Linked DNA regions of Homo sapiens. Changing the gene in region 6 together with the main gene of any one other region gives a genetic interaction. Each region holds a gene or a part of one and is shown on either strand. Other genes may lie near its edges.

What was found.
Region 1: changes in PTAR1 (region 6) and SPTLC2 are lethal when combined (synthetic lethality), as found in Homo sapiens cells (one study listed by BioGRID).
Region 2: changes in PTAR1 (region 6) and TAPT1 are lethal when combined (synthetic lethality), as found in Homo sapiens cells (one study listed by BioGRID).
Region 3: changes in PTAR1 (region 6) and NAA30 are lethal when combined (synthetic lethality), as found in Homo sapiens cells (one study listed by BioGRID).
Region 4: changes in PTAR1 (region 6) and TMEM131 are lethal when combined (synthetic lethality), as found in Homo sapiens cells (one study listed by BioGRID).
Region 5: changes in PTAR1 (region 6) and ZFAT are lethal when combined (synthetic lethality), as found in Homo sapiens cells (one study listed by BioGRID).
Region 7: of PTAR1 (region 6) and GOLGA5, changing one suppresses a phenotype caused by changing the other (phenotypic suppression), as found in Homo sapiens cells (one study listed by BioGRID).

The regions. Positions count from the first base shown.
Region 1 is NC_000014.9:77,554,138-77,557,637, reverse strand, and holds part of SPTLC2 (serine palmitoyltransferase 2), read left to right. Parts: intron 1-491; coding exon 492-597; intron 598-2,118; coding exon 2,119-2,338; intron 2,339-3,500. UniProt on the Homo sapiens protein: Component of the serine palmitoyltransferase multisubunit enzyme (SPT) that catalyzes the initial and rate-limiting step in sphingolipid biosynthesis by condensing L-serine and activated acyl-CoA (most commonly palmitoyl-CoA) to form long-chain bases.
Region 2 is NC_000004.12:16,174,472-16,177,971, forward strand, and holds part of TAPT1 (transmembrane anterior posterior transformation protein 1 homolog), read right to left. Parts: intron 2,484-3,500; exon of another isoform or gene 2,213-2,483; intron 1,758-2,212; coding exon 1,648-1,757; intron 259-1,647; coding exon 199-258; intron 1-198. UniProt on the Homo sapiens protein: Plays a role in primary cilia formation. May act as a downstream effector of HOXC8 possibly by transducing or transmitting extracellular information required for axial skeletal patterning during development. May be involved in cartilage and bone development.
Region 3 is NC_000014.9:57,393,586-57,397,085, reverse strand, and holds part of NAA30 (N-alpha-acetyltransferase 30), read right to left. Parts: intron 335-3,500; coding exon 211-334; intron 1-210. UniProt on the Homo sapiens protein: Catalytic subunit of the N-terminal acetyltransferase C (NatC) complex. Catalyzes acetylation of the N-terminal methionine residues of peptides beginning with Met-Leu-Ala and Met-Leu-Gly.
Region 4 is NC_000002.12:97,810,949-97,814,448, forward strand, and holds part of TMEM131 (transmembrane protein 131 precursor), read right to left. Parts: intron 3,441-3,500; coding exon 3,287-3,440; intron 3,194-3,286; coding exon 3,023-3,193; intron 1,802-3,022; coding exon 1,691-1,801; intron 1,608-1,690; coding exon 1,473-1,607; intron 285-1,472; coding exon 180-284; intron 1-179.
Region 5 is NC_000008.11:134,482,532-134,486,031, forward strand, and holds part of ZFAT (zinc finger protein ZFAT), read right to left. Parts: intron 1-3,500. UniProt on the Homo sapiens protein: May be involved in transcriptional regulation. Overexpression causes down-regulation of a number of genes involved in the immune response. Some genes are also up-regulated.
Region 6 is NC_000009.12:69,732,512-69,736,011, forward strand, and holds part of PTAR1 (protein prenyltransferase alpha subunit repeat-containing protein 1), read right to left. Parts: intron 1,744-3,500; coding exon 1,639-1,743; intron 1-1,638.
Region 7 is NC_000014.9:92,800,805-92,804,304, reverse strand, and holds part of GOLGA5 (golgin subfamily A member 5), read right to left. Parts: intron 1-3,500. UniProt on the Homo sapiens protein: Involved in maintaining Golgi structure. Stimulates the formation of Golgi stacks and ribbons. Involved in intra-Golgi retrograde transport.

The DNA.
Region 1 (3,500 bases), on a different chromosome or scaffold from region 6:
GAAAGGAAATGGAGCACGCACTGTGAAGTTTTTTTACGCCTTGCGTTTGTTTTTTTAGGAGGAGTATGTGTCTGTGATGGTTTATTCACACTCTCTCGCTCTGTCTTTTTTACGCATTTATTTCCGAATGACTCACTGGGATTAGAGATACAGTTTGATTCTGTATTTTTCGATAAACACACAGAAGCTAACTTAATGGCAGGGTATTTAACATGAGACACTGGTCATTTTATAAGGAAGCTAATGAACTGAGTTAGCCACCACCGTCCTTTAGTCAAGTTTCGATGGTTTTGAACATTTGTTACATTTTGGATTTCAATTCAAGGTGGCAATAATTCACCTATTTTGCCCTGCTTTTTTCTGCCCAACTCTAATTATGTCCTTTGCTATCTGAGGCATGGTTTCTGAATGAGAAATATATCTCTGCATTTCCGGAATAAAGTTAGGAAAGAGGAAGATGCGGTATAACTGTTCTTTTTTGTGCTCTGTAGATATGCAAAGCCTAGAGAAGCTATTGAAAGATGCCATTGTTTATGGTCAGCCTCGGACACGAAGGCCCTGGAAGAAAATTCTCATCCTTGTGGAAGGAATATATAGGTAATCCTGCTTTATTATTCTTACCTTTGTGACTTGGCCCCATGAAGTCATAGAATTTTTTAACTGAAGGGAACATTAGTCTATCCCCCTCTGGAAACTAAGGAGACAGTGTTTATAAGTCGCTAAAATACCTGGAAACAGAGTCAGCATTAGAACAGAAGTCTTTTTGTCTAGTTCTTCGTTATTCTTTCCATAATACTACATGGTCACCAAATCCCCTTTCTATTTGAGTCTTTTATTTTTCTAGTTTGTAGAGGGAACCTATATGTAGGGGCAAGAATTGGAATATATATTTTAATATGTCAAAACAAATTACACACCATTTAATTTTAATAAATATTTTATTTTAGGCTGAGTGCAGTGGCTCACGCCTGTAATCCCAACACTTTGGGAGGCAAAAGTGGGAGGTCGCTCGAGGCCAGGAATTTGAGACCAGCTTGGGCAACATAGTGAGACCCTGTCTCTGTAAAAAATAAATAAAAATTAAAAAGAAATATTTTATTTTGGTTAACCTTTACAGCTTTTACACGTATTTTTACCACCTAATTTTTTTTGTTCTTTTGTGTCATTTTAATTGCCTGTGCAACGTGATGCAAAGTCTCATGTTGCCTGTAATTACAAGCTTTAGAAGAATCTGCTGTGACCTTAATTATTTTTGTCGTGAATTAAGATTGCTTGTGTTTGGTGCTTGTTTTTTGTTTTTTGGTGGTTTGGGTGGCTTTTTTTTTAAGATGGAATCTCGCTGTGTCACCCAGGCTGGAGTGCAGTGGCGGGATGTCGGCTCACTGCAACCTCCGCTTCCCGGTTCTCCTGCCTTAGCCTCCCGAGTAGCTGGGATTACAGGTGTGTGCCACCAAGCCCAGCTAATTTTTGTATTTTTAGTAGAGACGGGGTTTCACTGTGTTGGCCGGGCTGGTCTCGAACTCCTGACCTCAAGTGATCCGCCTACCTCAGCCCACCAAAGTGCTGGGATTACAGGTGTGAGCCACCGCGCCCAGCCAGTGCTTGTTTTAAAAGTCCAGTTTTCTTTCCCCTAGTCTTTTGCCTTGCCATGGCTTCATCTACCTTTGTCAGTTTAAGCCACAGATACAGTTGTCAGACCATTTAAAACCCAATAAACTCAGCCGGGCAGGGTGGCTTATTCCTGTAACCCCAGAACTGTGGGAGGCCAAGGCGGGTGTATCACTTGAGGCCAGGAGTTCGAGACTAGCCTGGGAAACATGAGGAAACCCTATCTCTACTAAAAATACAAACATTATCTGGGCGTGGTGGTGGCGGGCACCTCTAGTCCCAGCTACTTGGGAGGCTGAGGCACAAGAATCGCTTGAACCCAGGAGTCAGGGATTGTAGTAAGCCGAGATTATGCCACTGCACTTCAGCCTGGACAATGGAGCAAAACTCTGTCCCAAGAAAAAAAAAAGAAGCAGTAAACTCAATAATAATGAAGTGCCAAACTCCCAATTTTGATTTAAAAAGTCTCAGTGTATATGTGTATATATATATTTTTTCATGTTTTGCCAGCATGGAGGGATCTATTGTTCGTCTTCCTGAAGTGATTGCCCTCAAGAAGAAATACAAGGCATACTTGTATCTGGATGAGGCTCACAGCATTGGCGCCCTGGGCCCCACAGGCCGGGGTGTGGTGGAGTACTTTGGCCTGGATCCCGAGGATGTGGATGTTATGATGGGAACGTTCACAAAGAGTTTTGGTGCTTCTGGAGGATATATTGGAGGCAAGAAGGTAAACGAGCCATGAGAATGAGCGATTAGAGATAAAGTCACTGGCAATTAGATTTGGTACCTCAGGCCTAGCAGATGGGGCCCTGAACTGGGATGTCCGCAAATTTGCCTCTGGTTTAGGCTCATAATACCAGTGAGTGACTCTAATGTCTCCTCACTGAACTAAAGGCTGGTTCTGTTCATTGTTTGTTGTTTTCTTATTTGAGCTTCTTTCTAAGCTACATGCTGATCTGAGATATAGAATACCCTCTTGTGTGAAAGAACACACAGTGGTGCTCCCTGCCCGCCCCAGCCTTCTGTTGGGTTTGCATTGTGCTCACAGTTTCAAAAACAGTGGGGTTGTCATGGGAGCCCATGGGAATAGCAGGTCACCTTGCCCTTGGACACAAATATATCATGAGTGAACATGGAGACAGGAAGCAAAAAAGTTGTGCCAGCTGTGGGGTACTACAAAGCATTGTATTTTTCAATTTTTAAACTATGAAGTTGCCTTTTCTGGGTCTTTGTAGTCAGAAAAAAATCATACGGTGAATTTTGATGCAGGTAAGAATCTGTGGTGTGGTCGAAATGGTGAACCATAAAGACAGAGGCCTGGGTCTGAATATTTCTCGGCTTACTTTGTTAGACCTCAGGGAAAACATTTAACCTCCCAGTTTCCTTGTCAGTAAAATGGAGATAAATATGCCCAGCTTGTAAGATTGTAGTAAGGGTTTAAAAAGTAATATATGTCCATGCTACAACGTGGGTGCACCTTAAAAACATTATGGTAAGTGAAAAAAGTCACAAAAAGTCACATATTGCATGTTTTAAAATATGTGATACCTAGAATAAGCATAGAAACAGAAAGTAGATTAGTAGTTGCCGGAGGCGGAGGGGATAGGGAAATGGAAAGTGAATGCTAATGGGTATGAGGTTTCCTTTCAGGGTTATGGAAATGTTCTAAAATTAGTGGTAAAAGTGGCACAACTCTGGATATACTAAAAACCACTGAATTGTGCTTTAAAACGGTGAATTCTGTGTATGTGGCTTATATCACAATGAAGCTGTTATTTTTAAACGTTGATTGCAATGTTAGGGAAAAAATAATGTATGTCAGGTATTTGTATATGGCACAGAGGAGGTGCTCATAAATGTTCTTAATTTTGCTTCACCACTCAATATTC
Region 2 (3,500 bases), on a different chromosome or scaffold from region 6:
AAGAGCATATACTACTTAATGTTAAGTATTACTATTATTCTTAATTTGTAAATGTTTATTTAGTGTTGAGAATAGAGATCAGTAGGCAGTTTATGTAGCTTTCCTTTAGTTAATATTTCATGCTAAATTAATCATTATTCAGTTAATTTCAGACTATGCCTTTGTTAATTTCAGACTACGCCCTTGATAAATGCTCACATTTTTCTGTCGGCTGCTAACAAGGTCAAAAGCAAGACTGGCTCTATATTCACTGTAGACCTAAAAACAAACAAGAATGAAATATCAAGTAATACAGTAAAAATATATAATGTGGAAAGACTGCAACTTTATTAATAAAAACATTTAATAATTAACCAGGAACAAGTGCTAATAACCAAGCTGACATCTGGGCATAATTTCTTATTTGTTTTCCTACAGTAAAGGTAAAATGTAACCTCAATTCCACCGAACTGTTAACATTCATAGATCTTCTAAAGGTTTTTCTTTAAAGGGGAATAAATATCCAACGACTATGATCCTGAGAGTTTAGAATTTGGGGAAAAGTGACTATTTTAAGTAGTGTAATGTATATAAAATAATTTTGAAATTTTAAATTAAATGAATAGTTTAAAAAAATTACTGTTTGTCTAACCATAATAATGCCTTCTGAGAAAAATGAATGCTGAAAAAGACATAAAACTAAGTTAGGGAACATAGTAAATATGAAGGCACTTGTGAATGATCATTACCACTAAAAAGTGCACAAGTGTCTCAATCAAGCCTATTAATTTTGACTTCAGATGCTAAATAAATGATCCTATGAAAAGGGAATCATTCTGCATTAAGAAAGCTGAGAAAGTAAATGGTGAAATTACTTTATCAATGCTTTACAAAAAAGTACAAAACTGTATTTACTTTAAGTATATTAAAACATTCAGAAACTCATAATTGAATCACAGTTGTTGCAACTGCATTTTATTTTAAATAATTGCCTTTTGAAACAAAACAAATATTACTGTGAGACTGTTATTAAAAGTACTACCCAGTAAAATCTAGAAAACTGTGGAACTATTATTTATTTTGGGACTGAGACAGGAATGAGAACTACATTAGGAAACTTTCTTATGTTTTATATGCAATAAATCTATAGCCACATATCTATTTCTAGAAATTATCCAGAACATCTGGTTAGAACATAAAACAAATTTCTCAAAGTTTAAACACTTTCACCAGAAAAATGTAGGCTCTCGTCTTCTAAAACTTAGCAGGAACCTATTCATAATCGTGGAAAAAAATCAACTTTTAAATATAAAATATTTTAAAAACCTAGCCAGAGAGAAAAATTTTGATGGTCTAAGTTTTAAAATAGAAACAATGTGATTTTAAAGTCTTTAAACAGATTATGACAGTGTTAACTGATCAGAATGATTTTGAGTTAGTGACACTGTGACTTCGACTACTGGCTGGTCTATACTTCTACCCCAAGAATATGGAATTATCATTGCCTAATATTAAAACAGAATACTTTCAATAGTGTAATAATTTTTAGAAACTTAAAATTACAATTCTGACCTTAAAGTATTAACAAACTCCTATTATTCTACAACTTTTAAAAATTAAGCAACAGAAGTAAACTTTAAACATTGAAGTGCATATCAAAATACATACATCTGCAGTAATGTCATTGAATTTAGTAATAAAGGCATGTTTTACAATATCCACGGCAATTTCTGATGCAATTACCATACAGACATCTGGAAACAACACCCAGAGATGATCTGTAAATAGAAAAAAGAAAAACAACGAAATATCTTAATATGAACAGAATCCATATCACAGGCTACCAGAGAAATATGAAATCTCTAGAACAAAACTGTAGTATTTTCAGTAAATGATGAACTAGCATTCAATTATAACCTTTATCAAAAGAGCTATACTGTATCAAGTTAAAGGATACTTCATTCAACAAACGTTTACTCAGGCCCGGCGCAGTGGCTCACGCCTGTAATCCCAGCATTTTGGATCACCTGAGATCAGGAGTTTGAGACCAGCCTGGCCAAAATGGTGAAACCCTGTCTCTACTAAAAATACAAAAATTAGCCAGGCATAGTGGCGTGCACCTGTATTCCCGGCTACCTGGGAGGCTGAGGTAGGAGAATTGCTTGAATCCAGGAGGTGGAGGTTGCAGTGAGCTGAGATCGCGCCACTGCACTGCAGCCTGGGCGAAAGAGCAAGACTCCGTCTCAAACAACAACAACAAAAACCCAAATATTTATTCAGTACTTTCTAAGTGCCAAGAACTGCTTTACATGTGGGCTCCAGTGGTTTAGCAGAGAGCCTCTGCCTTCACGAAGCCTACGTGCTGACATGCTGATGGGATGACTAGATTAAGCAGGTTCCTTAGAAAATCCTTTAATTCCATAGCTGCCTCAATGTGACAGTAAATAGCTAGAAGAGATGTGCTGTAGTCTTTGTAGATGAGCAGTCTTCTCCTTCTTTGATCACTACAATGTAAAGATATTAATCAATCCTTTGTTTCACTGTCATACAGATGTTAGCCTGATATATTTGCTCACCATTATGACATTTAAATGTCTATTCAAATAAGACCTAGTGATAGATAGATAAGTAGGGTAACCATAGTTTACAATAATCTACTGTGTATTTCAAAATAGGTAGAAGAGAAGAATTTGACTGGTTCTAACAAAAAGACAAATATTTAAGGTAATGGATATCCCAAGTACACTGATTTGATCTTCACAAATTATATGAATACATTAAATTATCACTTGCACACCCAAACTATGCAAATTATGCATCAATAAAAAAATTTTTTTAATGCCAATTCAGTACCAGGTACCTGATGAAACACACCTACAGACAACCTCCTAAGAACTTGGAAAAGAATGTAAGAGTGGGACACAGCAAGAAAAAGATAGGGAGAAATGCTGACAAGGACCCACAGCAACTCAAGACTCAGGTAGCCGGAAGGTGGGATGGAGATGACACAGCTGGGCTATCCCGGCTGACAGTGTAGACAGCTTCTGTGAGTCTGGCATCACATCAGGTTTTGGAAATCAAGGGACCTCTTTCGCCGATAAGCTCTGCTACTAACTGCTATATGACCTTGGACAAGTTTTTTTTTTAATCCACATCACTAGCAAAGGGCAAGTTTCTTAATGAGCTAAATTCCAGCTTCCTCAACCACAAGGTTAAGGATAGTAAGTGTCTACACTTAATTATTATGAGAACTAAATGAGATAATGGTGCACAGCAATGTGCCTGGCATACAAAATGGCTAGTGCTGTTTTTATGTTCCTCATGACCCTGAGAACTTAGAGCAACCTTCCATAAATGGCACTTTGTTGGTTTTTTTTTTTAAGAAATTTTAATAAACCTAAAAAAAGAGTGAAAACCTAAAACAAGAGTGAAAATGGTGAATTCATCAATAAAAGCAAGTGCTCCATTTATCATATTATCTGCCATAGTACTAACAAAGGAGGCAAGATAATTTATTAAAA
Region 3 (3,500 bases), on a different chromosome or scaffold from region 6:
AAACTGTCAAACAAAACATTAATAAAGAAAAAATTCATTTTAAGAACTTTTTAAAAATACCATTTTGAAATTAAAAATTAAAACCCGCCTTAATTTTCTTCCCTTAGTTTCTTTCATTTCTACATACTTACATTTAAGTCTTTTATTTCAAAACACAACAAAAATGAAAATAGCTTAGGCATTCTTTCCATAAAATAATATTTTTCTTACCAATGCCATTTCTCCTGTATTTGGAATCCACGGCTAACATGGCTATATAACCTCTGCGGAACATCTTTTTGTGCATATCCAACTTGCAAACGATGGCACCTACACACTCCTCCCCTACCATGGCCTTAAAAATAAACAAACAGTTATGAAGAATACATTGCCATCAGGTACTGCACAATTATCCAGAGAAAACAACAACCAACCATTGGTAAGCATTTTCGACGGGGGAAGATAATGGGAACTCTTGCAAGACAGCAGTCACAGAAGTTTCAGAAATCTAAATCCCCTAACTCCTTTAAATGTTCCAGTGTTAAAATTTCTCAATATTCTTTAGAACATGAATTTTTTATGCTTACTATTAAAGCCTAGGGAAAAAAGACAAGATTCCACAAGGTAAACATTCAAGTACTTTATAAGATTACATATGAGGTGCTTAAAATCACAATTATTTGCAACAAAGACCTAAGGTTCTGGAAGGGGAAATATGCAAAAAAAAAATGATTATAAAGAAAAAGTCTATTCATTAGGACATAAAATATTGTAAAACTTGCCCATCAGCAGAATGTAAATTTAAATATATTCAGTTAAATTTAGTAATAATGGCCAGGTGCTGTGGCTCATGCCTGTAAACCCAGCACTTTGGGAGGCAGGCGCAGGCAGATTGCTTGAGCTCAGGGGTTTGAGATCAGCGTGGGCAACATGGCAAAACCCTGTCTCCACCAAAATTACTTAAATTAGCCAGGTGTGGTGGCATGCACCTGTAGTTCCAGCTACTTGGAAAGCTGAGATAGGAGAATGGCTTGAGCCAGGAAGGGAGAGGCTACAGTGAGCTGAGATCGTGCCACTGCACTCCAGCCTAGGTGACAGAGTGAGACCCCATCTCAATAAAAGAAAAAAATGAAAATAAATTTAATAATAAAGTTTTAGTGAAAGCCAGATATAATACATATTTACACCTGAATGGTAGATTTCGATCAGGAAAAAAAAATTAAAAATTTTCAGAAAAAGCACAGTTTATAAGGTATTGCTTAGACCATACCCAAGAGGTTTTTGTTAATATATGTAAGTGTAGCATAGTCTCATTTTTAGGATACTCCTGATAGTGTGGATAACTGTCATAAAGCTCTCAGAATATTTATAGTTCAAAATCAAAGCTTTATGTTAAAAGCTTTAATTTTACAGAAATTTCTATTTTAATAAAAACGTACAGCTTTCCAGAGTATTAAAAGCTACATGTTAAATTCTAATCATCCCCCATTTTCATTAAGATTTCTAGTGTTACCATTGAAAATGTTTTTCAAAAATTCCAATGCTGATAAAAAGTTCTAGTAACACAGTATTTCTGGTAAATATAAATAGGGCAGTATCTCCAACTGTTTAAATAATGTGTCAGTAAGAAGTCTGTTTTCCATAAATTAACTTTCCAGAAGAAACTATTTCAACAAAAGCAGAAATGAGTCAAAAAACTAATAAGTAATGTCCAATTTATAATTAATACATATTTTAAATTTGTGACTTTTTTAGTCTGTCATTCTGTAAATTGATTAAAAGGCCTTTTTTTAACTGTGGAGAAATCTTTTCAGCAAGATAATTCTAATCCATTTCATGCAAACCTAAACTAGGTCGGAAAAATCCTTTTGAAGGAATATGAAATTCAACAACCCACGCTAATTCATTTCTGGTTTATCACACATTCCAAAACTATTTTGGGTCAATAAACCTCTGAAATTGTTATTTCTAATTTTTTCCCTCACAATACATCAATCTTTTAAAAAAATTTTTTAAACAAAGACCTGAAGTATGCACAAAAATCGCCTCGACCAACTCTGAAAGCTTTTTCTGATTTGAAACTCACTTCAAATATATGTGCGTATATACAGACACGTATAAATACATACACATACATAAAATTATCACAGACCAAATGGTATATTTAAAAGGGCCAGAAAAAATTTTGGCCTGACCTCATAAGCCAGGCTCAGGTGAAATGAAAACCTGTATTAGATTGATGATACAAACCTCAGAATAGCTACACCTTATATAAAACTATCCAAAAATGAGGAAAAATTAAAACCATTAAACACAATACAACTGGACAGTACTTTCAATCTGAACAGGAATTTCAAACAAATCTTTGTCCTTTGAGCATGGAATAAGCAAACAAAATATTAAATTAGTTCATTCTTAAGACCTGATTTCTTCCTAATTTAGAATCTATAGGAGCAAAAATCAAGCTGTATACATCATCTAAAAAGCCCAATATATCATACACCATTACGATGACATTAGTAGTGAAGACCAATGCTGCATTTTTTTTTCCTGATAAACTACTCATGAATATGTGGTACATTTACAGGAATCACTAAATTGCTTGTCAATTTTTCCAAATAAAAGCTCTGCATATACATTTGGAATTCACGCTATTAAATGTATTTTTTCAAGGATGGGAACTGAAAAATCCCCGGCAAGATTAAGACTTAACACTACAAGGCCAAAGGGTTGTCAGTCTATAAAACTATGAAAAAAATAAAGTGAGAGATTCCCAAATTCTAGAACACTACAAATAGAAAACTGGAGGAAGCCAAAAAGTTAAATTTAGAACAAATAAATGGAAGTACTATGTTACATTTGCTGAGAGTAAGTTTAAGAACTTCAAAAAGATACCAACAACTGAAAATGTTACTATGAAAACAGGTAAAGATAAAATGGTTAAGTACAGAGTAACTGAAAGTGTCTCACATTTGTCCTTTTTTTTTTTTTTTTTTACATCTTTTACAATTAGGAAGAATCATAATAAGCTATCATTTTTATTAATCAAGTATTGGCAATTTTGTAAGGTTCAACCCCATATACTCCATTGACCCATTACAGGTTATCCACGGAAAACGGAACATTTTGGAGGTTTTTAATCTCTTGAGATTGATGTAAGGGCAACTGTCCCTTGGTGAAGATAACTTGGTGACACAATAATCTTCACTGAATGGATCAAGGGTATGTCATTTTTCAGGTTCTTGTTTGTTACCATAATGAGAGGCCAGGAGAACTGGGTTCTAGCTTTACCCTTCCGACGGTAAATATCTGGAGATTGAAACATTTTAAGTCACTTTGGTTCTTAACTTCTTTTCAATCAAAAAACAAAACAAAACCTACCCCTCTGTCAGTAAATATCTGGAGATTGAAACATTTTAAGTCACTTTGGTTCTTAACTTTTTTTCAATCAAAAAACAAAACAGAACAAAACCTAAGTTGGGCTAGATTATCTCTAGGATGGCTTTCAGTTCTAAAAGGAT
Region 4 (3,500 bases), on a different chromosome or scaffold from region 6:
AAACTATGAGCCTATGAACATCAATATTCTATAAACTATTCTCGAAAGCTCAGTTTTTAAGGTATGAAACTGGTAAACTGTAACTCTGAGTAAACTTAATTCTTTGGTTTCATAAAGACAAGAAAGGACTGACTTATTCAGAAAAACCCCACTGCCATGAATCCCCATAAAGTCCTTACCTCATAGTCTGTTGTGATCTGGATGGCTCCATCATGAATCCCCTCTAATTTTTTTGCAGTAAGTTTGACTCTGAAGACTGCAAAATAGCCTGAAGCTAATGTTACCTGTAGATAGTAGAAATGGTATCATTCATTAGCCTTGTTAGTTGAAGTTTCCTATTAAAATGGACATGAAGGGTGTAGCGATAAAATGACTAACAAATCCTAACATATACCAGTATGACACTGAATTACCATATCACTGTGTACAAATATCTCAAAATAGTGTCCATCCCTTGATATTTCTCTACTACACTTGTTCCATGGGCCACTGAAAAAGCTGGTTCCTGAAAGAGGGAGGGGTGTGGTCCTCTTGCTAATAAAGCTCCTCACTCTTTACCCATGGACCTGTATGGCCAAAGGGGCTGGAGCAGAGGGACACAGCCTTCCACCAACCTTTCAGGCACACTGGAGCCACAATTGTATACACAGCTGGCTCTGCTTCAAGCTGTGGATGTCACTCTGTAATGTTAATATTCATATCTTCAGGGCAGCTGAGGTCAGATATAACAAAACACCAGACCTATGGCATTCCACGGAAACGTGTTTGTCAACACTCTCTGTGTATAAGGACACTTGCTTTTCCTTTTGTAAAACTGCCCCAAGAAATTCTATTCTAACCTGCAGATGAGATTATCTGATGCTCCTTCTCACAGATTGTGATTCTAATTCTTTTCCCAGTAGGTATAAACTCCAAGTTCCCCTTTCAGTACTGGTGAGTGCTGAAACTAATAAATTTGTTTTCTCTTGTTTAGCGCTCTCTGACAACCAACTGTAACATGTTTATTAGACAGGTAAAAATATGTGGGCAGACTCACAGTGATCAAACAATGTTTGCCTCACTGATACTGAGGCAGTATCTGGACAGACGTATTATTGCATAATTGAAAATATTTTCTACCAATGTTCAGGGCCATCTCTTTTTCCCAGTAAACTCAATGAACACAAGGTTAGTTTAGTACCCATGGGAATCTCTCCTGTAATGACACTTGTGTTACAAAAAGATAATTAAAAATTTGTGTGTTATAGAACTTTTTATGACAAGGCAGAATTAAACCCCTTTGGGTTTCAGTGCCCTCATCATAAAAATAGGGGGTTGAATTACATTACCTATAAGGTCCTTTTAATAGCAAGTAACCAACACTATTATGAACTGCATAAAAATAATAGTGATACATGTAGCATAGCAATGATCTTCCACTTGCAGTTTAGACATCCATCTTACTTTAAGGAGACAATAGAAAGTTTACTTACCGATGATTGATCTGATAAAGAGGATTTTTCAAACTCTGGCAGGCTTGAAATTATTGTAGTTCTATTGCCTCTTTCCACAGCTACAAGTTCTATTGATAAACCGTCTCCTATGATATGCCAACTTTTTATAGCCAACTTTAAAAAAAGATATGAAAATGATTATCACAACACAAGCATAAAATCCTTAAATGTGATTTAGAATAAAAACAGGTTTTTACCTCAATTGGATTGCTGTTTATAATTGCAAATAAAATATTACTTGCTTCTGTAGCACTCAGTACTCCAAAATCTATGAAACGTTCCTCTATTTTGGGGGGCAATACAAAGTACTGGAAAGATATAAAAGAACCAGATTAAAAAAAAGTCACATTGATCTAACAATATTATGAAGAGAAAGTAACTATATTAAAGATGTATTAAAGTTCCCCCCAAAATTAGCTGGGCATGGTGGTGTGCACCTATAATCCCAGCTACTCGGAAGGCTGAGCTCAGGCAGGAGAATCGCTTGAACCCGCAAGCCAAGATTGCACCACTGCACTCCAGCTTGGGAAACACAGCGAGACTCCATCTAAAAAAAAAAAAAATTACAGTTCTATGCTTTCCTATGCTTTTGTATATATGCATAAAACCACACATTTATACGACATAGTTGAGGGCTTTGTATGACGAAAGTCTTTTGAGTAATCAGAAATGAAAACAGCCATGGCTTCTGCTGAGTTGCTATTCTTCCTCTGAGGGCACATGAAAGAGGCAGGAAGCTAAACTACTAAGAGAGGTTTAGTGGAACCCTAGGGGATCGGGCAAAAAGCATGTGGTCTCAGCAAGCATCACCAATGATCACTGAAACAAAATAACTGAAGCAGGAGCGAGACATTACTGAAGGTCCCTCCAGCTCTAAAATTCTAATCGATGCCAACTATTTAAAGGGCTACATTTCTAGATGTCCTAGCTTTCTTTTTATCTTTCCTAACAGTTTTCTCTCTTATCTAAGCTTCTTTCATTGATCACTCTCAAGATAGCTTTGTTTGGAATTTTTCCCCCTGCTTATTTTCTGTACCAGGAGTACCTTCATTGTTTCCTTCTGTGTCATATATAATCTTCCAACTTTGCGTCTTTACTACCTTATTTTCTTCTTTACTATCTGATTCTCTTCTTTGTCCCGATATTTCTTGGTTTTGATCATCTCTTCCCTACGTATATCCCTCTTCACCTTCCTTGTATTATTCTTTTTCTACCTATCATTTTTCTATTTAGTTCTTTTCTATATTCCCCATTATTACAATAGTTTAAAAGCATATCCAAGAGAAAGCAGAATGTGGAAAAGATCTAAGTAGAGACTGTAACTAGAGAAGTCAACTGTATCACAAGAGAGAGCTGCCAGAAAAGGTAAAAACTAGTTACCTGGAAAGGTAAAAACTGACTAGGAGAATTAGATCAATTTGCAGAGCACAAATAATGGCAAACCGTATGTAACACGACTGCCTAATAAGATCTGAAAACATTAAAGGTGGGCAGGGAGTTTAAATGTTAAAGATGGATAATATACTTACATCTAAAAAGCCTGTGTATACCCGCACGGGTAAATGAAATTTAGAAGCATTGGTAATAAGTAAAATGTTGTTATCAATGTGCATGGATGATGTGGAAGGCATAAAAAGCAGGGTAAAAATGTATCCTGATTCATTAGGAAGAATTAAGACTGGTTTGCTGAAGTTGTGAACCTGAGAAATGACAGAAGAGAAAAAAAACAAAGTGTCAGCATCACCTAGTTGGTAGACCAGGAAAATTAAAAGTATGAGGGCTCCTGGACATACTTTAAACATTGTTTTGGCTTCTTCTGGTAGCAACACATCGTGAATGAGGATCGCAAAACTGAAAGTGTTAGTAAGGTAAATTGGCCTTTCCACAGGATCAGCAGGGCTGTCTCGGATGTGAAATAATGTTGCAGCATGATCAAATCCCAAATAACTATTAAAAAAAACAACAAGAACAAAATAAATCATTTTTATTTCCATGTGTTAATTTAAA
Region 5 (3,500 bases), on a different chromosome or scaffold from region 6:
TCTCATTAGTCCTCTAAATATTTATTTATTTGCCCACAGTATCTTTTCTAAGTATTAAATCTATTTAAAGATAACCTTTCTCCATTTATTTTGTTTTGCTTTTTCAATTTTTAGCCTCCAGGGTTTGTCCAACAGAATCCCCATGAAATTCATCCACTGCTAATTATCAGAGTACAAAAAAGTTTTCCAATGTCATTCTTTGGGCTTAATTCACCAGAAAAAGCGATGGAGGCAATGGTGATGTGTATTTCCCAAGTCCTGCGAAGAGCAGGCTTCCTGGTGTGCACAAATGTGACAGGGAGGCACGCTGTTGCCCTGTCGTGTTACTGAGCGTCCAAGACACGCAGGGTTCCTGAAGGTCCCCTGCAGCCTCCTGTTGGGCCTCCTTTACACTCTCCCCAGTGTTCACAAGTGGCTCTGCTGGCCCTGCAGACGCTGCCCACACAGATGTCCACGTCACAAAAAGCTAACGTGTAGAGAGGACGAAGGAGGGAGAGTGGGTTGCTTTACAGAAGGGGTTCATAGGGCTTTCTGCAGAGTGCACCCCCTTTGTGCATTTCATGGTATATGATCACACTCTGTTTGCTTTTATGCAGTTTTTACAAACCATGCACCTCCTTCCTTGCTCCCACGGCACCCAATATCCACCCAGCCATTTGCAGTTTACTGAACATTCTCCCATGCCTTGTCCTGATTCTTTACACACAATGTCTTATGCCTTGGGCATTTGTGTTCCCATTTTACAAATGGGGACACTGAAGCTCCTCCTGGCCTCGTGACTTATGTAAGGTCAAAAAGCCAGAAAGTAGCAAAAGCTGGAACTTAGTCTGGGTGGTTCAGAGACCTCCTTCAGCTGGTGTAGTGTGACAGCCACTATCAGGATCCCATGTTATGGGTTGATATGATTAAATTATCACTCTTTACTCCTCCTGATTAGTCTCAGGCTGGCTGTAGAACTCTCAACCACTCTCTTTGTTCAAAATAATCACTCTAGTCGCTTAATCTATTAGCACAGGCTTAAAATTGTTCTTCACCACAGAAATAATATGGCGCTCACAGTGTCATTATCCCCTGAGATGAGTACTCCATTTTCCCCAAATGCCGTATCTAACACATCTATCAGAGAAATTAGCAGCAGCATAGATAGCTCGATAGAAACCCTTAACCCCTGGGACGCAGAAATCATTCACTGAATCAGGCACCGTGTTCTGCTGTTCCGCTGTCTCCAGTGTTCTGGAGTCTGGACAAGATCACTGTCAGGACCGGCACTTTGCTGGGCTCTCTTCGTGCTAAAAGGCAGCTTCCCCTTGAGACCCCATGTCTTCCTTGGCTTTAACCCATCGTCATCCATTCATCCAGCAAACGCTGATGGATCCTCTGCGGTGCGCCAGGCAGTGGCTACGGCTCTGGCTGCCTCATTGTCTCACTTTCTTCCTACTCCCCTGCCTGTTCTGCCTTCTCCTTCTCCTCTAGCTCCTCTCCTCACTTCCTTCGTAAAACCCATTCCTCTCAGGTTAAGCTTTCTTCCCCCAACATTTAAGAAAATCCCAGAAGTTCCTCTAGCTCAGGACACCCTCCTTAAGGAAGGTGGGTCCTGCATTGCTCCCACAGGGCTCCAAGGGTGCCCCGAGGAGCCAGTGCACAAAGGCTATTACAATCCACCTCTGCACAGATCTCCCCAGAAGCAAGCACAGCACCGGCTCCTCTGTGCCCAGTCCAGTGCCACGCTCTTGGTAGGCACATAGTAGGTGATGGTGATTTAGGCTGGTGCAAAAGTAACTGCAGTTTTTGTACCAACCTATAGCTGTAGAACTGCCCACATGTAGAACCTGTAAGTGATGATAAAGAGAACCATCTGGAGCAGCCATGGACTCCAGGGCCAGCTGCTGCCTGCCCTTGGTTCAAACTCTGTCTGGCAGGAGCCCCCCAGATGATCTGAAAGTAGGGAAGACGGTGCATTGTCTATGGAGGAGAGTCCCTTTTGGCTCCAAAAGTCCCAAAGGTCCAATCACCTTATTCTATGGAAGGGAAGTCAAGGCTCAGAGAAAATAAACTACCCAGGGCCACACTGCTGGAAATAGAGCACAGATTTTTTGACTTCTAGTCTGCAAAATTCCCCAGTCTGCATGAGGCAACTTCACACCAAGCCACACAGCACTTTGGTTACTGGGAGAACAGAGCCAGAATGTCTAGCATGGCACCTGGGCAGGGGCGAACGCCAAGTAGATTTTCCCCGGAATAACAATATTATTTATAATAGTTGTAGTGATTATTATTATTTTGAGACAAGGTCTCACCCTGTCACCCAGGCTGGAGTACAGTGATGCAATCACAGCTCACTGCAGCCTCAAACTCCTGGACTCAAGAGTTCCTCCCGCCTCAGCTTCCAGAGTAGCTGGGACCATCCTTGGATGAACAAAGAAAGCAGTAAACACACAATGATGATGATGATGGAGACATCATCATCAGGACAGATCTAGGGCTCTGAGATTACAATCTGGAATGATAAGAAGTGCTTGTTGTGGGTCAGGTGCTGTGTGAAGAGTCTACGTGTATTAGGTACTTAGTCTTCACGGCACCCTAAGAAGTCTTAGTGTCCTAGCTTTAGAGAAGAGGCAGACTCAGGGGAGGATGACAAGCTGCCCTGGGGGGCTCTGCCCACCCACTGGGTCCTGGGGAGTTATGTAGTTGCTTTCCCCCTGCTCCGCCTGGCCTCTGAGCCTGATGGTCCCAGCAGCCAGGCCACTGTGCACAGCTGTGGGCTTGGCCAAGCAGGAGGCTGCAGTGTCAGGGTCCACACAATCTTCTTGATTTTCCCATTGGCCTCCTGCATTTGACCCCAGCACAGTCTTTTTTCATTCCTCTCTTTCCTCTCTAATGAGAAGACACTGATGGACTCCTCTGTCAAAGTACCCTCTGCCTGGGAAACATGTTCTCAAAAATGCCCGGAGGCTGGCTGAAGCAGGAAAGACAACCCCTCCTCATCTGACACACGTTTTCTGGAATCCTTGACACTGATGGGGAGGTGTCTTGCCAAACAGGAAGACTGTGGGGAAGGCAGTGGCCCGTGGGGACACTTGACCTTAGTGTATAACCTGGCCCACAGCCTCTGAAACCCAACTCCCTAACATAGGTCTTTCTGTGTCAGAGGCTGCACCAACACCCCTCCCCAGGACATTGAAACAGCCCCAGGACACATTCAAGGACATCAAAATATGACAAAGACTCATTAAGAGGAGAGAGCTGAATCTTATGGCTGAATCCCACAGAGGTAGCAACAAGAAAGGGAAAATGTTCTTACTAGCTGGGTATTTAAAGTAACAATTGTTTAAACTGCTGCTGGAATACGATAAACACCACAAATTCGCATCACAGCTTTCAAAACAGGGTGCGAAGAACCTCCTGGTGCCCGAGTTCCCCACATGCCTGTGCAGAGGGCTGGGGCCGCCTTCCTGTTCAGTCCTGACAGGGGATTGGAATTTCCAGGGTTTCATCAGACC
Region 6 (3,500 bases):
TGTTGTTTATGATGATACTAATTTAGCAGTATGGATGAAGGGTGGAAAATGGATAAACAGGAAAAAAAAAAAACTTTAAAATCTGTAATACAGAGAATGTCATTACTTCTAAAATGACAATCCCAAAACTCCACTTGGCCAGGAAATGTAAAGGCAATTGGTGTGTGTGTGTGTGGTCGTGGTGAGAGGTCATAAATTAATGGCTGATAAATATTATAAGGAGTCATGATTCACATCTTTAAGTATATATGCATGCCTCACCCTATGTGCATTTGTTTGCAAACAAGAAGCTGCATTCTGATAGCTTTCATTCAGCAAAATTCTGTATTATAGCATAAAATCTGGAAGGTAACAAATATAATTCATTAAACCATTAAGAAGGTGTCAAAATATCCTTATCCACAAATTCTCCCTTTGTCTGTTTAAGATTTGCATTAACATGTATTTACATAAAAAACACTAAATAGTGTTTCGAGCTACTTAATGTGTTTACTTTGTACCAGTAATTTACTTATATAAAAGCATTTTTTAGACTAAAGATTTCAAACCCAAAGGTACAGGAAATTAAGTAAGAAAACTCACTTTGTCATTTTAAAATAATGGAATTTCTTATTTAACAACAAAATATTGCTTGATAAAAAAAATTAGACAAGCCAAACTGATGGATGCATATTTAACAGTTCCTTTCCCCTGCCACCATCCCTTTCCAAACCCCCATACACACAGTCATATACCCTTCTGTGGTATACTATCTCAATTTCTGGTGATGAAGAAAATATAACTGACTATGTGGTTTGGAAGAAGCTGACCTGCAATGTTAACTAAAGGCACGATTACCACTAAGACACCTGGAACGGACATAAGATCCTAAAAATGCCCACGATTTAAGAAAAATTAGAGTGGCTTAATAAACTGAGAATTTCAGAGTGACTTCTTCATTGGTCCTGACTAGCAAGCCCACACCATCCCATTTTGGTCAAATAAGAGTAGTTACACAGGGTCCAAGAGGAAGATGGTTCCAGGTGGCCAGGATTTTGAGAGTCCTAAAGTGCATTCTGGCTATCTGTCCCATGCTTTTAACCTAAAAATGTTCTTTGTATGTATGGATTTTAGCAACTTTAGCTCAGCCTACACAGCATTCGCTTCAGCTGCCCTCAGCTTTCTCTGTAAGTTAATTTTAATAACCACAACCATCACCACCAACATCTTTACCAGGAAAACAACCAAATGCTTTTAAAATCCATATTGCTCATTACAGTTGAGTATCTATAAATGCAATGCCCACAACTGCTTCAAAGAGTTAATAATAGCTAACATTTATTGAGTATTTAATATGTGCCAGGCACTGTGGGAGTGTTACATGCATTAACTCACGTAAACTTGACTGTTAACTATATGAGACAGGTGTAATTATTATTCTCATTTTACAAATGAGAAAACTGAGGCTTGGTGAGTTAAGTAATTTCCCATGAACACTTAGGTAGCAAGTTATATAGCTCCTAGATTTAAATGTAGGTAACCTGACTTCAGAATTCATGCTCTGGAACCAATAAGTAACCTTGCCTCTCACATGTCATGTTTCTTTCTCCAGCCAGTCTGAATCCTAAGTAAGAGTACTATGTTGTAAATTAACCACACCTGTGAATCCATGTTTCTGGACTCTTTGGAAACTTGGTTAAGGCGAGTTTTCCCAGATGTAAATCCTTAATTGGATTTAAAGTGCCAGAGAGGATCAGCTCTTTCCTGTAAAAAAAAAAAAAAAAAAAAAAAAAAATTAAACATTACTTTATCCTTATATCCAAAGGTTCTACATGGCTTTTAATATAATCTCATTGTGAAGCGAATGTCTAAGAATTTTAAAACAAAAAAAGAAAGAAAAAAAGCCCAAGCCACTCTGGGATATAAAACACTCATAAATGTGACATGCAGTAATCAAGAATGTATTCTCATAATCCCAATATAACAAACTAATAAGCAGAAAGAGAAGCTCTTAAATCAACAGATTTTAACGATTTTTAAATCTTAACTATTTGCGTGAGGGTAAATGGGGTTTTCTGGCCTATCTCATTTCCAAAAGTTGTGAGACCTGATATCGTACCTATAGGGCCAATCCAATACCAGCCAAAATTGGTCTAGTTTCCTAAATAGGACTTGACATGGTCTATTTCATTACAAAACCACACATACAACAAACACAATATGGTTGAGATGTAAGGGAAAAAAAAATCATTCATGGAATCACTATTCTAACCAAATTACTATTTTTTATTTTTGAATTTTCCCTTCTACTTTTCCCTATCACACATACATTTTAACATATAATTTTACATCCTGCTCTCATTATATCTTAAGAATTTCCCCATGATTCTATATAATCTTTGTAATGAACATTTTAAATGATCAAATTAGTTTTCATTTAGAAGCTATGCTTTTCCCTTCTTGTTAGACATTTAGGTTGCGTCAAACTTTTTGTTATTTTAAAACAAATCTGGGCAGGGGAAGCTTTGTGCTTATAACTTCTTTCTTTTGTATTCTTACTTTGGATAAGTTTCCAAAAGAGCTATTAACAAGGTAAAATACTTACATGACCCTTGATATACGAGGCCATTCCTTTTTAAAATATTAATATAAGCAGCAGAAGTAATAGCAATGTAATGTTTTGGTTGTTTTTAAAACTGTTCAAGCCCAACCAAAGCTTCAATGCAATCAGTTGTCCCTTGGTATCTTGTGGGGGCTTGGTTCAGGACCTCCCAAGGATACCAAAATCTGCGAATGCTCAAGTCCTTGATATAAAATGTGTTGCCATATAACCTACACACATCCTCCCATATACTTCATATCATCTCTAGATTACTTATAATACCTAATACAATGTAAATGCTATATAAATAGTTGTTACATTATTCAGGGACTAATGATAGGAAAACAAAGTCTGAACATGTTCGCTACAGAAAGCAATTTTTTCCCCAAATATTTTCTATCTGCGGTTGGTTGAATCCATGGATGCAGAACCTACAGATACAGAGGGCCAACTATATAAAGAATGTCATGCAAGAGCTTTCTATACCTGTTTCTCAGGTAAATACAATTTACATTTAATTTCTCAGGTAAGTTTTTGATAAGTGCTGATATTACACTCTCACTGAATTCTCAATGTATCTATAATTTTATAATAAAATCAGATCATTTGTTATTATTTATCTTAAAATGTCCTTCCTGTGTAGGGCTGATTATTCATTTATTTTAGAGAAGTTTAAGCCAGAGAAAACCAGAATCCAGCTCTTATACCATATCTACTTAGACGGACTTAATTCCTAAATACCACAATACATTTTCTTTCCAACAGTGACATACTATTTATAAAGTTTTATTTGATAAAGAAAACAACTATTTTCCTTTCAATGTTCAGGAAACCAATTTGTCATTATATATATATAATATATATATAAAATATATATTTTTTTCTTGCAACAGCCAATTGCTTTTGCAGTCTTGGATTA
Region 7 (3,500 bases), on a different chromosome or scaffold from region 6:
TGCCTGAGTCCAGGAGTTGGAGACCAGCCCGGGCAATACAGTGAGAACTCGTCTCTACAAAAAATTTTTAAATAATATAAAAAATAAAATATTAAAATTCAAAAAATAAATTAAGTATATATCCAAATGTGGGATGATATCTAAGGCAGTATTCTGAAGGAAATTTATAGCCTTGGTTACATTAAAGATGAAAGGCAGGAAGGAAGAAAACTAATGAGTTGTATATCCATCTTAAAAACTATAAAAACAGCAGAACAAACCCAAAGAAAGCAAAAATTAACAAAAGAGGAAATAAACATACTAGAGAGGATCAGCATAACCAAAAGTGGTTCCCTGGGACAGATATAAACAACATTAGGCCATCAAATTTTAAAATGTACAAGATACTGAAATCTATCAATTGCACAATACTTATCGTGCAGTTTATTGCATGTGAATTATACTTCATTAAAGCTGTTTTAAAAAGCAGGCATTTAGTGCAGTGCCAGAAACAGGGTAAGGATTCAATATATGCCAGATACTGATATTCTTCACACAGTATGCATGATCAAGCATTGGTTTTTGCAGGGTTGGTATGAATAACTAATGTTTGGTTGCGTTGAAAGTTTCAGCTGTGACCCCTACATTATTTTCCTGAAATTAAATAAGTATAACCCCTCAAAATGTGTATGACATTGACAAATTCTTGGGGAAAAAAACGTAACTTACCAAAAACAGATTCAAGAAGAAATGAAAAGCCAACTGAATCAATAGTTAAAACCTTTCAGTAAGAATACCCCAGGTCCTGATGGTTTTAGCACAGAGTTCTAGCAAACGTTCAGGAAATAAATAATCTCAGTCTTACACCAATTAATTAACACAACAGAAAAAGAAGGAATACTTTCCAATTCATTTGATAAGGCTAATATAACTGTAATACTAAAACCTAACAATATCGCAGGCCGATTTCGCTTATAAAATAAATGCAAAAGGTTAGGTGTGGTGGCTCATGCCTGTAATCCTAGCACTTGGGAGGCCAACACAGGAGGATCCCTTCAGCTCAGGAGTTCAAGACTAGCCTGGCAATATAGTGAGACCTTGTCTCTACAAAAAATGAACAAAATTACCTACGCATGGCGGTGTGTGCCTGCAGTCTCAGTTACTATTGAGGCTGAGGTGGGAGGATTGCTTGAGCCTGGGAGATTGAGGCTGCAGTGAGCTGAGATCCCACCACTGCACTCCAACCTGGGCGACAGAGTGAGATCCTGTCTCAAAATAATAAAAATAATAATAAATAAAAATTAAATTAACTAAATAAATGCAAAAATCCTAAAGGGAATATTAGCAAACTGAAAGTTAAGTTTGGTTTTATATTTAAAAGTATCAACTGGAGCTGGAGCTAGGTGCAGTGGTGTGCACCTGCATCCCAGTGAGTTGGGAGGAGGAAGTGGGAGGATTACTTGAGCCAGGAGTTTGGGGCTGCAGTGCACTATGATCATACATGTGAATAGCCGCTACATTCCAGCCTGGGTAACACAGCAAGATCCCATCTCTATTAAAAATAAATAAATAAATTGATTTATTAAAAATAAATAAATTGATTTGTATACTATATTAATATTAAAGAAGAAAAACTATATTATCTCCAAGGGTAGAGGAAAAAACATTGCTAAAATTCAACATGATAAAACCTCAAACTAGACATTTATGGGAACTTCCTTAAACAAATAAAAAAACTATAAAAAACCTAATGTAAAATCATACTTAGTGAAACAAAGTATTCCCTCTAAGACAAAGAACAAGATACAAAACTGGTCGTTGAGTCCTAGCCAATGAAGAAAAGGATTTTTTAAAAGATAAAAGGGCTAAGAAGAAACAAACTGTCATTATACACAGATAATTGTGTTGTTGAAAATCTAAATTTATGTCCAGAAAAACATGAAGATTAAGAGCCATCTAGATTGCTATGTATGTACACACAAAAAAACAACAAAAAATACACCAGCAATAACAAAGCAAAACATTTTAAGGAATACCACATATAATTGTTTCAAAAAATATAAACTACTTAGGAATAAATCTAACATAAAGTATATAAGATCTTTATGGAGAAAACAATAAAATTTTAATGAAAGACACTACAAAATATGTTGAAATTATATCCCATTGGTGGATAAGAAAACTCAGTATAGCAAAAGTGCTGACTCTCACCAAACTGTCTATATAGAAGCAATTAATTCCCAATAAAAAGACCAACAGAGTTTCTGTGAAACTTGATGAGCAAATCCTAAAATGCATACAGGAGTGGAAAGGTCCATGAACAGCCAAAACATTTCTGAAGAAAGACCACAAGGTGGAAGAAGCTACCCTATCAGTTATCAAGACACATAAAACTACATTAATTAAAACAGGGTGGCACTGGCACAAGGATACACAAATAAACCAATAAAACAGAATTAAGTGGCCAGAAACACACTAATGAATACTTGATATATAAGACAGGTGGTACTGCAAATTGGTAGGGACAAGAGACTCTGTTCAATAAATGATGCTAGAATAGCTGATTTCCCTATGGCAAAAAAAAAAAAAAGAAAAAGGGAATTGAATGCCTATCGCACACTATAGAAGACAATACAGAAAAATATCTTTATGATCTCAGTGTAAGGAAAGATTTTCCAAGACACAAAAAACACAAGCCACATGCCATCTACATTAAGAACTTCTATTCATTGAGATGCCATAGACAGAGGGGAGGGGAAAAACCAAGGTAAAACTGGAGGAGGAAAAGAATTTAGAATTTAGAATATATAAAGAATGTCTATGAATCAAGAAGAAAAAAGACAAATAATCTAACAGAAAAAAGTTGATAAAAAAGACTTGACACTTCCAGAAAATGAAAGTTCAATAGTCAAATATCTGAAAAGATCTTCAACCACACTAGTAATGAAGGAAATAATATCAACGACAAATCTGATCAGCAAAAAGTAAAAAGTCAAATTGAAAATAAAAAATGTTGGTGAAAATGTGGAGCAAAAGAAGTTCTTAACCATAGCTGGTTAGAGTATAAATTGGCACAACCTCTGCAGAAAGCCACTTTGGCATTACTAGTGTAGCTGAACATTGTTAAACCCTACAGCTCAGCAATCCCATTTCTACACATTTCTAGGCATCTCAGGACATTGGTTCTCAACTGGGATGATTTTGCCCTGCAAGGGACATTTGGCAATTTGTGGAGACATTGTTGGTTGTCACAATTGGGGGTGCTACTACCACCTAATGGGCTAAGAGGCCAGAGATGCTGCTAAACATCCTACAAAGAACAGGAGGGCTTCCCACACTATTGAATTAATTTGGCCCAAAACACCAAGTCTCAAGGTTGAGAGGTCCTACCCAAGAGAAACAATTTTTATAACTCCTGTGTATTATAACCAGTTCTAATTCATTTCCCTGACAACGAGGTTCCCTTTAGGTCCATTCTTTCTAATTAAATGCAAGCTGCTTTCTTTAAAAGTACAAAAATA